Homo sapiens: one gene and its partners. The protein of the gene in region 4 interacts with the protein of the main gene of each other region in a biochemical or structural test. Each region holds a gene or a part of one and is shown on either strand. Other genes may lie near its edges.

What was found. The genes of interacting proteins can lie anywhere in the genome.
Region 1: the proteins of PTPRR (region 4) and MAPK7 form a complex in vitro, tested with the Homo sapiens proteins (one study listed by BioGRID).
Region 2: of the proteins of PTPRR (region 4) and PDGFRB, one has a biochemical effect on the other in vitro, tested with the Homo sapiens proteins (one large-scale study listed by IntAct).
Region 3: the proteins of PTPRR (region 4) and MAPK14 form a complex in vitro, tested with the Homo sapiens proteins (one study listed by IntAct).

What each region holds. Positions count from the first base shown.
Region 1 is NC_000017.11:19,381,498-19,384,044, forward strand, and holds the end of MAPK7 (mitogen-activated protein kinase 7), read left to right. Parts: coding exon 1-189; intron 190-283; coding exon 284-969; intron 970-1,315; coding exon 1,316-1,449; coding exon of another isoform or gene 1,450-1,453; intron 1,454-1,580; coding exon 1,581-1,734; 3' UTR 1,735-2,047; downstream 2,048-2,547. UniProt on the Homo sapiens protein: Plays a role in various cellular processes such as proliferation, differentiation and cell survival. The upstream activator of MAPK7 is the MAPK kinase MAP2K5.
Region 2 is NC_000005.10:150,145,846-150,149,345, forward strand, and holds part of PDGFRB (platelet-derived growth factor receptor beta isoform 1 precursor), read right to left. Parts: intron 1-3,500. UniProt on the Homo sapiens protein: Tyrosine-protein kinase that acts as a cell-surface receptor for homodimeric PDGFB and PDGFD and for heterodimers formed by PDGFA and PDGFB, and plays an essential role in the regulation of embryonic development, cell proliferation, survival, differentiation, chemotaxis and migration.
Region 3 is NC_000006.12:36,072,808-36,076,307, forward strand, and holds part of MAPK14 (mitogen-activated protein kinase 14), read left to right. Parts: intron 1-65; coding exon 66-177; intron 178-883; coding exon 884-913; intron 914-1,241; coding exon 1,242-1,289; intron 1,290-3,040; coding exon 3,041-3,155; intron 3,156-3,500. UniProt on the Homo sapiens protein: Serine/threonine kinase which acts as an essential component of the MAP kinase signal transduction pathway.
Region 4 is NC_000012.12:70,641,239-70,644,738, reverse strand, and holds part of PTPRR (receptor-type tyrosine-protein phosphatase R isoform 1 precursor), read left to right. Parts: intron 1-3,500. UniProt on the Homo sapiens protein: Sequesters mitogen-activated protein kinases (MAPKs) such as MAPK1, MAPK3 and MAPK14 in the cytoplasm in an inactive form.

The DNA.
Region 1 (2,547 bases), on a different chromosome or scaffold from region 4:
CCATGGAGTCTCCACCACCAGCCCCGCCACCATGCCCCGGCCCTGCACCTGACACCATTGATCTGACCCTGCAGCCACCTCCACCAGTCAGTGAGCCTGCCCCACCAAAGAAAGATGGTGCCATCTCAGACAATACTAAGGCTGCCCTTAAAGCTGCCCTGCTCAAGTCTTTGAGGAGCCGGCTCAGAGGTGCCTTGTGGGCAGGTCGGGTGGGCAGAGGGGAGACTTGGACTTGGACAAGGCTTCAGGCTTTTACCTTCTCCCCTGCCCAACTTCCCCGCAGATGGCCCCAGCGCACCCCTGGAGGCTCCTGAGCCTCGGAAGCCGGTGACAGCCCAGGAGCGCCAGCGGGAGCGGGAGGAGAAGCGGCGGAGGCGGCAAGAACGAGCCAAGGAGCGGGAGAAACGGCGGCAGGAGCGGGAGCGAAAGGAACGGGGGGCTGGGGCCTCTGGGGGCCCCTCCACTGACCCCTTGGCTGGACTAGTGCTCAGTGACAATGACAGAAGCCTGTTGGAACGCTGGACTCGAATGGCCCGGCCCGCAGCCCCAGCCCTCACCTCTGTGCCGGCCCCTGCCCCAGCGCCAACGCCAACCCCAACCCCAGTCCAACCTACCAGTCCTCCTCCTGGCCCTGTAGCCCAGCCCACTGGCCCGCAACCACAATCTGCGGGCTCTACCTCTGGCCCTGTACCCCAGCCTGCCTGCCCACCCCCTGGCCCTGCACCCCACCCCACTGGCCCTCCTGGGCCCATCCCTGTCCCCGCGCCACCCCAGATTGCCACCTCCACCAGCCTCCTGGCTGCCCAGTCACTTGTGCCACCCCCTGGGCTGCCTGGCTCCAGCACCCCAGGAGTTTTGCCTTACTTCCCACCTGGCCTGCCGCCCCCAGACGCCGGGGGAGCCCCTCAGTCTTCCATGTCAGAGTCACCTGATGTCAACCTTGTGACCCAGCAGCTATCTAAGTCACAGGTGAGAGGGAGGCCCAGGCCATGGGGACACCTGGGTCTGGGCCAAAGGAAAATGGGTTCAGGAAGCGGTCAGTGTTCCACAAAAACTGAGCAGCAGATGGGGCTTTATCTCTGAACGTGTCCTCTTGCTCACAGAAGGAGCATAATGGCAATGAAGAGGTTGTTAGGAGACAAGTTAAATATGGCCTGCAAAGTGCCTAGCCCAGAGATGGGGCCAGCCAGCACTCACTGACTGCCGAGACTGGTGTTAGCACTCCCAGATATCCAGGCGGAGTAGTCAGCAGCATTGGGACAGGGTGGCCTACAGACCTCAGTCTGTCTGCATTGTAACCTGTCATTCCCTGCAGGTGGAGGACCCCCTGCCCCCTGTGTTCTCAGGCACACCAAAGGGCAGTGGGGCTGGCTACGGTGTTGGCTTTGACCTGGAGGAATTCTTAAACCAGTCTTTCGACATGGGCGTGGCTGATGGGCCACAGGATGGGTAAGGTGGCTGGACTGAGCTCCTAGACTGGGACTGTGGGGAGAGGTTCCTGGTGCAGGAGACATGCACCTGTGGGATGGGTGAGGGTCCAGCCTAGGCTAATAGCACCCCTCCCTTTCCTTCCCCTGCAGCCAGGCAGATTCAGCCTCTCTCTCAGCCTCCCTGCTTGCTGACTGGCTCGAAGGCCATGGCATGAACCCTGCCGATATTGAGTCCCTGCAGCGTGAGATCCAGATGGACTCCCCAATGCTGCTGGCTGACCTGCCTGACCTCCAGGACCCCTGAGGCCCCCAGCCTGTGCCTTGCTGCCACAGTAGACCTAGTTCCAGGATCCATGGGAGCATTCTCAAAGGCTTTAGCCCTGGACCCAGCAGGTGAGGCTCGGCTTGGATTATTCTGCAGGTTCATCTCAGACCCACCTTTCAGCCTTAAGCAGCCACCTGAGCCACCACCGAGCCATGGCAGGATCGGGAGACCCCAACTCCCCCTGAACAATCCTTTTCAGTATTATATTTTTATTATTATTATGTTATTATTACACTGTCTTTTTGCCATCAAAATGAGGCCTGTGAAATACAAGGTTCCCTTCTGCACCTGACTCCAGGTGTAATTTTTGGAGTTCGGGGTAGGACACCATCAGCAGGGGAGCAAGGAGGAGCCAGGTGCCTACATTTGGGGGATAAACAAATATGTTTGTGTGTATGAAGCCAGTTCATTCAGGTTCTGAAGGTTTATTGAGACCTTCAGTCCCTACCCACTCCCAGCCCTGCAGAGATTGTCCTCTGCTCCCTCATGTGGCTAAACCTCTCAACACCCAGAGGGTATGGGGAAGACCTCATATGCATGCCTACCTTGGCTGTGGCTGTTTCAGGGTGGTGTGCGGTAGCTGTGTTCTTGGCATAGAGCTTCAGGGGCTGGGATGGGCCATCAGGGGAAGCTGAGTATGATAGTGAGGTGGGCTGGGGTTCCACGGTACTCACCACAGGGGAGTAAGTTGGTGGGAGGGATGCTGAAGATGGGACATGGTTTGAGAGCAGCCCAGAGGAGTGCTGGGCTGTGGCCTAGAATACACCATGGGCCCTGTTCACACTGCACTGC
Region 2 (3,500 bases), on a different chromosome or scaffold from region 4:
CAGCCTGGGCAACAAGAGTGAAACTCCGTCTCAAAAAAATAAATTAAAAAATAAAGTCGTCAGCCTTATCTTTTCGCCTTCTTTGTCCCAACTTCTCCTTTCACTCTTTCACGCTGTCTTTTGAGCTGGGTAAAGCTGAAGCTGACAGTTTGAGTGGGAAACAGTCACTCCATTTTTCACAGAGCCCTACAGTCTTAGTACATTCCCTCTATTCACATCTCCCCCACCTTCTCTGCAATTGCACACCTCCCATGACAGGGCTCTCACCACCTCACCTGTGGCCCATTTCATTCTTAGCCAGCTTAGAATCTTCAGAGGGCAGACTATTGAGAATTGTTAATTACACTGAGTACAGTTTATCTCACTGTATTCTCTGCTTATTGGTCTTGCTTCTATCCACCAACCACCCTCTCCCCAAATACAGGACATCTTTCTAGTTATTGTTCTGATCCCCCCCAATCTGGAAACAAACAAAAGTCCCTACTAATTTAGAGCCAGGCACTCTGCTAAATGAGATGATCTGGAGATTTTGTTTCATCCTCACGACCACCCTGTGAGGGGGGTACACTCATTATTCCCATTTTACAGAGGAGAATGATGAGTCTCAGAGACTTTTGGTAACTTTCCCAAGGTCACACAATAAGTAAGATGCAAAGGAACGGGAATGCAAACTCAGGCCGGCCTGACTCCAAAGCCTATATTCTTTCTTTTTTTTAGAGACAGGGTCTCGCTCTGTTGCCCACGCTGGAGTACAGTGGTGTGGTGGCATGATCATAGCTCACAGCTCACTATAGCCTCAAACTCCTGGGCTCAAGTGATCCTCCCGCCTCAGCCTCCTGAGTAGCTGGGACTACAGGTGCGCATCACCACAACTGCCAAAACCTGAATTCTTGCCCGTCATGCCAGACTGTCTGTCTCCTGACCAGAAACAGTTCTGTCCATCTGTCCACAGAGAAACGTTCTCCCTCTAATGGCGTCCATACGGAATCCAGGATCTCAGGGATGAGAAGATCCTCAGGGATCTGGGTCCCGCCTCTGCTCTGACTGAGGGGCAGTGTATGCGGGAGGCCTGCCCCGGGTCACCAATAATTTTAAAGTCGAGCTAGGGATAGAACCCAGGACTAGGGATAGAACTCCACAATTTCGCTGCAGAGGCTGAGGGTGAGCACACAAGGCTGAGGAGAGAGTTTTTGCTTAGGAAAGCCAGGGTCTGGCAGGGGCAGTGCTCCTGCGGGATACAGCATCCAGGCAATCAGCCCAGGTGTGTGGCCGGCTCTGCCACAGGCCTGCTGTGCACAGGGTCCAGGCCTGCCCCTGTGGGGGCCCCAGCACCCCCTTCCACTGTTTGCAGAGGGCCAGGGCCTCTGTAGCTGCAGAGTTCCAGGCCTCCACCATCCTGCTGCTGCCCTCCCCATCCCCACCCCCCAGAGCCTCATCTCCGGCCGGTGCCATGGCAACAGGGAGTGCCAGGCCCTTGGCAGCCAAAGGAGCCCCTGAGAGGGGTCCCAGGCTGAGACTGAGGAGGGGGGTGCGGCAGGCGCAGACAAGCAAACCTTCTGTTCCCCGGGCTGCTGCCAGCCCGGAGCAGCCATGGGCTGGGGTGGGGGCCGCAAATAGAATGGGTTCTCAGAGCCAAGTGGGCAGGGGACAGGCAGGCCTTGGGCCATTCACACTGACCCACCAGCACACAGCCTTCCCCCACAGGCCCAGGGCCTGCAAATAGGGGAGGGGTAGCTAGCTAATGAGTAAACCCTTCACTTATCAGTGCCAATTACCAAACATTGAGATTCCCCTCAGAGCCCTCCTGGGCGGCAGAGCAGGAGGGCAGAGAACCCCCATGTTTCACTGACCCTCTCACTGTCTCAGCATCTGTCCTCCCACCCCTGTCTTCGGTCATTCACTTAACCACCCCTCTGTGCCTCAGTTTTCTCATCTGTAGATTGGGGCTCATCACTGGGTTGTCAGGGCTATTGAAGGAGTTAACACAAGCAAAATGCTTAGAATAGGGCCTGGCACACAGCCCTCTGCAAAGTTGGTGGCCACATTATTATTATTCATTCACTCAAGGGAGAAGAAGTCACTCACTCACTCGGCCTTGCGCGCACAGCCAAGACTCCACGGGACTAGGCTTCTCAGCAAAGTGATGCATGTGATAAATGAGACGGTGCAAGAAGGCCTCTCCCAAAAGACGCTCCTCAGGAAGAGGTAGCTGCTGATTATTGGTACAATCAGTAGCAACAGCCCTTTTCAGTGTCCTGAGGCTCAGTGAGGAGTGTCTCATCCTAGCACACTCGGCGATTCGGTGGCCAACCTAAGGCCAGACCCATCTAATCACCACTGTCTGTCAATTACTTCTTTCCTGAACTTTTGTCTTAGTCCTTTAATATGACTTCCCACAAATCAGGATACCTACCTAACAACGATCTGGACTCTCTTCAACTTCCTAATATGGAATTAGGCCTACAGTAGGTGCTCAGTAAACGCTTACACGATATGAGAGATTAAATGGCTCTGTAGGGTCAGCTCTTCAGTCCTGGGCCCTCGGCTGCCTCCTAATAACACAGGATTCACTAGGCTAGGGAACTGGCATGGATAGGCAATGGTGACTCTTTCCTTCCAGGGAGGTGATGGAGATGAGCTGGTGAGGGCAGAACAGACATATGGCACTCTGAAGCCAACAGGCTGCGCCTGATGCCATCCAGGGCAGGGATGGGAGCCCCGCCAGGCTGGGAGCAGTGGTTCCAGCTGGAAGCCACTTATTCCTGGGTCCAAGCCCCAGTTCTCTGAGTTTAACTTATCTGAGTCCCAATTTCCTGGGAAATGGCATGGGAGACCTCCTTTTCCATTTCTGGGAGGGCCAGAGATGATGACGCACAGCACTTGGCACATCATAGGTGCCCAGTAAATGGTGACTAACAACAGTATATGATTACTCCAGTGGGGAGAGCGGGTATGGCTTCCTGAGGGAGGTGGCCTTGAGCTAGGCCTCCAGGGTTTCTTGAGTTTTTTGGCAGATGATGCCAGGGAAAGGTATGGCCAGGGCTCTGTGAGAGATGAAAGGCATCTGGGAGAAATGGCAGGGAGAGATCTGTTGGGCTAGAAACTGGGGCTCTTCAGCAAACAGGTAGGTGATGGCCTGGGAAGGAGGCAGCAGGAGGCCAGGGAAGGAGGCAGGGAGACTTCAGGAAAGGTCTGCGGTGCTGTGTGAGGATTTTCTCTGGACCACCAACTTTTCAAGGTGTTGATAGTGATGGCGGGTAGTAGCTGCTGGCTTGGCAGGGCAATGCTGTAACTCCAGGCACTGTGGGGAGGGGGCCTCCATGCAGGAGGATGACACCAGCAGGCTGGCATTTAGTGGGAGGCTGTGGATTAGGATGGGGACAGTGGAGGCTGCAAGGCCAGTGTTGGGGATGAAGCCGTCCCAAACTCAGCCTGAACTCCCTGGCAGGACAAGCTACATAATTTGTGGGGCAAGCACAAAATGGAAATGCAGGGCTCTT
Region 3 (3,500 bases), on a different chromosome or scaffold from region 4:
TCTTCTGAAGATAAGAACTTTCTTAGGGGTTCTAGATTGTTATGTAACTTTTCACTAATTTCTAGGTATCTGGTGACCCATCTCATGGGGGCAGATCTGAACAACATTGTGAAATGTCAGAAGCTTACAGATGACCATGTTCAGTTCCTTATCTACCAAATTCTCCGAGGTCTAAAGGTACAGATAATACAAGTAATAATTTTTTAAAATGAATTCTCCCTTTCTCCCCTCCTTTTAGGGCTTAAACAAACAAGTAAACAACTTTTCTAATGGAAAATTCAAACACATAAAATCACAGGTAAAGGTCATATAGTACAGTAAACTGCCATGTTCACTCAGTGACAACAGTTACCGACATATGGCCAATCATGTTTCTTTTGTATTTCCCAAGCCCTGGATTATTTTAAAGCAAGTCTAGACATTATATAATACCATCCATAGATACTTCAGTTTGCATATCTGAAAGATAAGGACTCTTCATTCTTACATCTAAACAATAATTTATTGATGTAATCTAATATCTGGTCAGCGTAATGTTGAGATTTTCAAAAAATCCTCAAGAAAGACTAATTTATTTGTTGGAGGGGCAGATAAACAGTGTTTTAAAATTAAACCCATCTTTGATATTTAGCTGCTTTGAGTCCTTATTGAGCTCCAGAGTGCCAACCAGAAAATAGATTAAAAGCTCAACTGAGTGGAGTCAATGGCTGTGGAAATTATAGTAATGGTAAATGTACACAATACTGATAGTTACTTATGCTGATTTCTAATCTTACTATTAACACTAGCAGTTCTTACTGATTCATGAAAATGTGCAGCAAATATGTTATATAATATGACAATAGAAGGTTGGAGGTAACTTTGACTTTTTTCTCTTTTGCAGTATATACATTCAGCTGACATAATTCACAGGGTATGTATTGTGACTTTGATTACATTATTTTGGGGAAGTGGGGTGAGAGTGGAAGAATGGCATTTAGCCAAGATCCTAATCTAAACTTTAGCCATTGAAATGTTGATTGATTGCAACTTTACTGTAGGTTTAAGCTGATTAAAGAAAGAAGATGTGTAGTTTTTTTCTATGTAAGGCTAACTTGGACTGGATATTGACTGTAGGATGGAGATTGTCTTTTGATAGCTGGATGAAGTCTTTTATGTCTGGATCCTCATTATTACCTGTAGGGGGAGAATTGATCATGCATCATAAAGTTGATCCTGTCTTCCCTGTATTTGCTTCCTAGGACCTAAAACCTAGTAATCTAGCTGTGAATGAAGACTGTGAGCTGAAGGTAAAATGAAGAGACAGTATTCATTGTTTGCTTTACTTTGAGATTATATGTTTGACTAAGCAGGCAGACTTTCTTAGGGAGTAGCTTTGTGAGCCATGACTATCTGAAATTCGTATTATTTTTATTATCAGACTTTGAAATTTAAACCATTTCTGAGTAAGCTAAGTGACATTGAAAGTGGCATCACTTGTTTTTATTTTAACATAAAGTTAAATTATAAATTTGATATATTAGTCATAATAAAGGAGGATAATAGTCAAATATCAAGTAAGTAGGCCCAAAGAGGTGATAACTAGATTAAATACATTTCTAAGAGGAGAAATGGCAGAAACCCACTCACTCAAAATAATTCAAATAAAAAATAAGTGAATTAATTGTTTCTAAATAGCAAGCAGCTCTAGAACTTTTGTTCCATTTCATTTTTTTAACTTGAAAAAATGTCTGTACATTAGAATGCACCATTTCATTTGGCAAAATTATATATCCACTTAACTCACATTTATGATAAAGACCATTTCTTTTTTTTTCCTTTTTTTTGGGATGCAGTCTCACTCTGTTGCCCAGTCTAGAGTGCAGTGGTGTGATCTTGGCTCACTGCAACCTCTGCCTCCCGGGTTCAAGCGATTCTCCTGCCTCAGCCTCCCGAGTAGCTGGGACTACAGGTGCACGCCATCACACCCGGCTAATTTTTGTATTTTTAGTAGAGATGGGATTTCACCATGTTGGCTAGGATGGTGTCGATCTCCTGACCTCGTGATCCACCTGCCTCGGCCTCTCAAAGTGCTGGGATTGCAGGTGTGAGCCATTGCTCCCAGCCAAGAACATTTGGATTACTTTAAAAAGTTTATGGCCAGGCGTGGTGGCTCATGCCTGTAATCCCAGCACTTTGGGAGGCCAAGGCGGGTGGATTATGAGGTCAGGAGATAGAGACCATCTTGGCCAACACGGTGAAACCTCATCTCCACTAAAAATACAAAAATTTAGTTGGGCATGGTGGCGGGCACCTGGAGTCCCAGCTACTTGAGAGGCTGAGGCAGGAGAATGGCGTGAACCTGGGAGGCAGAGCTTGCAGTGCGCCGAGATAGTGCCACTGCACCCCAGCCTGGGCAACAGAGCAAGACTCCGTCTCAAAAAAAAAAAAAAAAAAAAAAAAGTTTATTGTGTCCCTTCCTAGTCAATCCCTACCCCTCCACCCCTAACTCTGGCTCCAGGCAACTATGGATCTGCTTCTAACACTATAGATTAGGTTTATCTTTTCTGGAGTTTCATGTAAATGGAATCATATAGTGTGTATTTTTGTGTGTCTGGCCTTTGCTTGGTGTAATGATTCGGTATTGTTGTGTGTGTCAGTGGTTTCTTCCTTTTTATTGGTAATAGTATTTTGTTTTATGAACATAACAGAATTTTTAAATCTATCCACCTGCTGATGGACATTTGCTTGAGTTTGAGGCTGTGTAAAGCAACTGTGAATGTTTATGTGCAAACCTTTGTATGGACGTAAGTTCTCATTGCACTTGATTAAATACCTGGGAGTGACATTTTTGTTTTGCTTTTTGTAATTTCATTTTAAGTTCTTGCTGTATATTTACCATACATTCTAAGTATGGACCAGGAAATCTCTTTATGAAAGTGCTATTTTGTTCTCCTTTTTAATAAGGCAACAGAGGTTTGTTTGTTGTTGTTGTTTTGTTTTTTTTTCCCTGCCTGTTTCTAAGTCTTAGCAGTTTGTCTGTTCCTCTTCTGCCCTTTAGATTCTGGATTTTGGACTGGCTCGGCACACAGATGATGAAATGACAGGCTACGTGGCCACTAGGTGGTACAGGGCTCCTGAGATCATGCTGAACTGGATGCATTACAACCAGACAGGTATTACTCGCCTTGGTTATTTAGGGCCTTATTTAATTCCATGTTGGATGCATTTGGGATTCTCAGAAATAGAGATGGTGGGAGTGGGAAGAAATGTCTTTTCTTCCCTCAGTGATCCTTTTAAAGCCTGCAAGTAAAAATATTTCACTTCCTCAGATGGGGAAGTGGGGTTTTATACACAGCTTTTAAACCTTGTGATTTAGCAATTGGGTTTTTATTTATTTAGATTTTGAATATATTCTCTGAGTACTTATACCTAAAGACAATTAGTCCATAATTTTAACCCCTCAATGTTACTTGGAAGAATCTACCATTCTACTAATAAGAAACTTGCCCCTTTTTAAA
Region 4 (3,500 bases):
CCTCACTCCAGAGCCTCCTAACCAGTCCTATTTGACCAGATGGTACCAAAGAGTAACAATAACAATAACAATAATAATAGTTGACATTTATGGTATTGATATGTGCTTGGCTATGTGCTAAACATGTTAAGTGATAGTCCCATTTATTTCTCACAACAATGCTATAAAGTAGGAACTATTGTTTTTATTGTCGCATCATTTGCAGATGAAAAAACTGAGCACTGCAGAGATTGTGTAGTTGGGTAAAATATCTAGTAAGTGGTGGAGACAGAATTTGTCTTGACAACAGTGTATGCTGTCTTTTTCCCTCTTAACATACTCTGGTCCCCCCTGGTAATGAACTTGGCACCATTCTCTCAGCTAGCTGGGGTTCTCTTGACATTTTTATTTGACCTTACTCTTTTTTGGTAAACTAACTCCTGCTTAGCAGTAGGTATTTTCACTTAATGTATTATACCTCCTGGGAAAACAAACGTGTACTGGAAAAGAAATATCTGACGCACAATAAAATTTTAAAGAGTTTATTTAGTAAGAAGCCAGTCATACATTGGGAAACACCAGACCAAAAGAGGTTTAGTGTTCCAATGACAAAACGCCAGAGGCAAGTATTTATTGGGAAAGTACAGAAACAAACAATTTATTTGGTTGGTTTGCAATTACATAATTGCCTTTTTTCAGGTACTGTATTGGAAAGTCCTTACTGACATAACAATATGTGAGTTGGATGCTTATGATTGGCTGGGGTTATGTTTTAGTTCTAACATAAGCATTTATCAGATATGAACCTGAGGTAAGTTTCACTTCTGTTTGCAATTTAAGGTGCATGCATATTGGTGCACACCTGTAGTCCCAGCTACTTGGGAGGCTAAGGAGATCAGTTGACCTGGGAGGTTGAGGCTGCAGTGAGCCACGATCCAGCCAGGATGACACAGTGAGACCCTGCCCCAAAAAGAAAAAGAAAAAAAAAGTAAGAAAAAGAGTACCCTTGTTTCTCACCTCCCAGAACCACTTTGTATTGGGAACTTTATATCAGTAATATAGATCCAGATTTTAGCAAATCCATGAAACCTATCTGACCTAAGAGCTTCCTGGAGTCAAGTCAGAGCTCTCCTGAGGATGAATAACTATAGAGCTCTCTTGAGAGTTCCATAGTTAACCAAGCTTTATACATTTATTCCATAAATATATTTTGTATACAGACACTGTACTAGCTTCTTAGGTGTTTCTTTTTTTGCTATGACCAGCCTATCTAAAAAACTGCATTTGCCAGGCATGGTGGCTCATGCCTGTAATCCCAGCACTTTGGGAGGCTGAGGTGGATGGATTGCCTGAGCCTAGGAGTTCAAGACCAGCTTGGGCAACATGGCAAAACCCTCTCTCTCTCTTAAAAAACAAAACAAACAAAACAAACACAAAAAACACACACACACAGAAAAAATTAGCTCAGTATGGTGGCATGCACCTGTCATCCCAGCTACTTGGGAGGCTGAGGTGGGAGAATCACCTGAGCCTGGGAGGCCAAGGCTGCAGTGAGCTGTGATTGCATGACTACACTCCAGCCTGGGCAACAAAGCAAGACCCCATATCAAAAATAAGAAGAAAGAAGACTCTGTTGACCTTTCTAAGAATGGATTACCTGTTATAGAGCAAATGCTATCCTCTGGCCTCAACCTCCTGTGTAGTTGGGACCACAGGCATATACCACCATGTCCAGCTAATTTTTCTTTTAAATTGTAGACAGGGTCTAACTATGTTACCCAGGCTGGTCTCGAGCTCCTGGGCTCAAGTGATCCTCCCACTTTGGGCTCGAGTGATCCATCCAGCACTCCCAAAGTGCTGGGGTTATAGGCATGAGCCACTGCATCCAGCCAATAGACTATTCTATATATCAATATATGCAATAGGACATTTATTTAATATTTTCAGAGATGATTATGATGAGTTCCTGAATTTGAACCAGCCTCCAGTGAATGCATCCTGGAATACCTTTTGCTTTCTTTTAGCCTAGAGTTTATCTGTTTTCACATGACATGAAAATAGCATGACCTGGGTAATTCATTTGACAAGTATTTACCTAGGACTCGTAAGTGCTTTTTATTGTTACAAGTAGAAGAAGACCATGCCATTATGCTTGTAGGTCTTTAAAGGACCTACAACCTAGTTGGAAATAATTATAGAATGGGATTAGATAGTATATATCATGATATCAACTTACTCATATTAAAGACCCTACTTTGTCTCTTTTTCTATTTTTTAATAATGCCTTAGATAAAAAGATGTAAGGGATCCTTGTTAAATACCTGGGAGACACAACGCTGGGAGTGAGAAATGGAAGACTAATATATTGACGATAGATAGTGATCCAGTAAACAAGAGCATTGTGCTGAAACTAACAAGTTGAAATTAACAAGAATAAATAGAAAGCCTTGCATTTAGTTTCAAAAATCCAGTAGCATAATTACAGGATGGGAGAAAGCTATAATGTCCACATTCAAAAAAAGTCTTGTTGACTTTTTATTTAATCTACACCGTCAGTTAGTATCTTAAAATACTACCGAGAACCAGGCACCATGTAGGCACTGGGGGACCTCACCACCTGATGCACCTGCAAACACAGATCTATTGGTCTCTAACGTGCAGCTGGAAGAGAAAATAAGCCTGCTTCATAGATCTCATCAGAAGGAGACACAACTCTCTAAGAAGGTCATATTTGATAAAATAGCCTGTAGAAGAGGGAGACTAGAGTGGTGAGTGACAGAAAAACCAGGCTGTACAGAAATATTGAGTGACCACAGGATGTTTAGTCTAAAGAAGAAAAGATTATAGGACTTTGATGGCTGTTTTCCAGCCTTTGGAGAGCTGTTGTGTGACTACAGGGGAGCCTTAAGACGTCTTTTGGGTTATTTCAGTTGGACCAATGCGGTGAAAGTTAGAAAGGACAGATTCATGTTGATGTCTTAAAAGTTTTCCTGCCAACCTTGGAAAAGGCTGCCTCTAAAATTGCAAGATTTCTAAAAAAGCTATATTGTCAGTGACTAGAATGGATGATCTCTAAGAATTCCTCTGATGCCAGTTTTTTTCATTTTTATTTTCCAAATTAAGTGGGAGGTAAGAGAACTTTTCATATACTTTCCTGAAGCCTTCAGACCTGCAAGAATTTTGCCAGCCCACAATTAATGAGTATGCTTCTCCATCTTCCCCACTTTCACTGGCTAAAACAACCTTGATTTAGTGAACAGAATGTCATAGTAAATATACTCCAACCATTAAATTACACCACTGACCCACTTAGGGTGAAACAGTTATTAAATTCTAAACTGTGTCTCCATTCATTCACCAGTTGGACATGTAAATACCAGTGCTGACCAGAACATACAAGAAGGGGAAAATCTTGCCTCAAAGTGAGGTAAATGGTGAGAGGAAGCTGACAGACCAGAGCCTAAGAGGTGGAGCACATAGAAGCTTCCACATACTGTCTGCAGCTCAAGAGGGAGTAATGG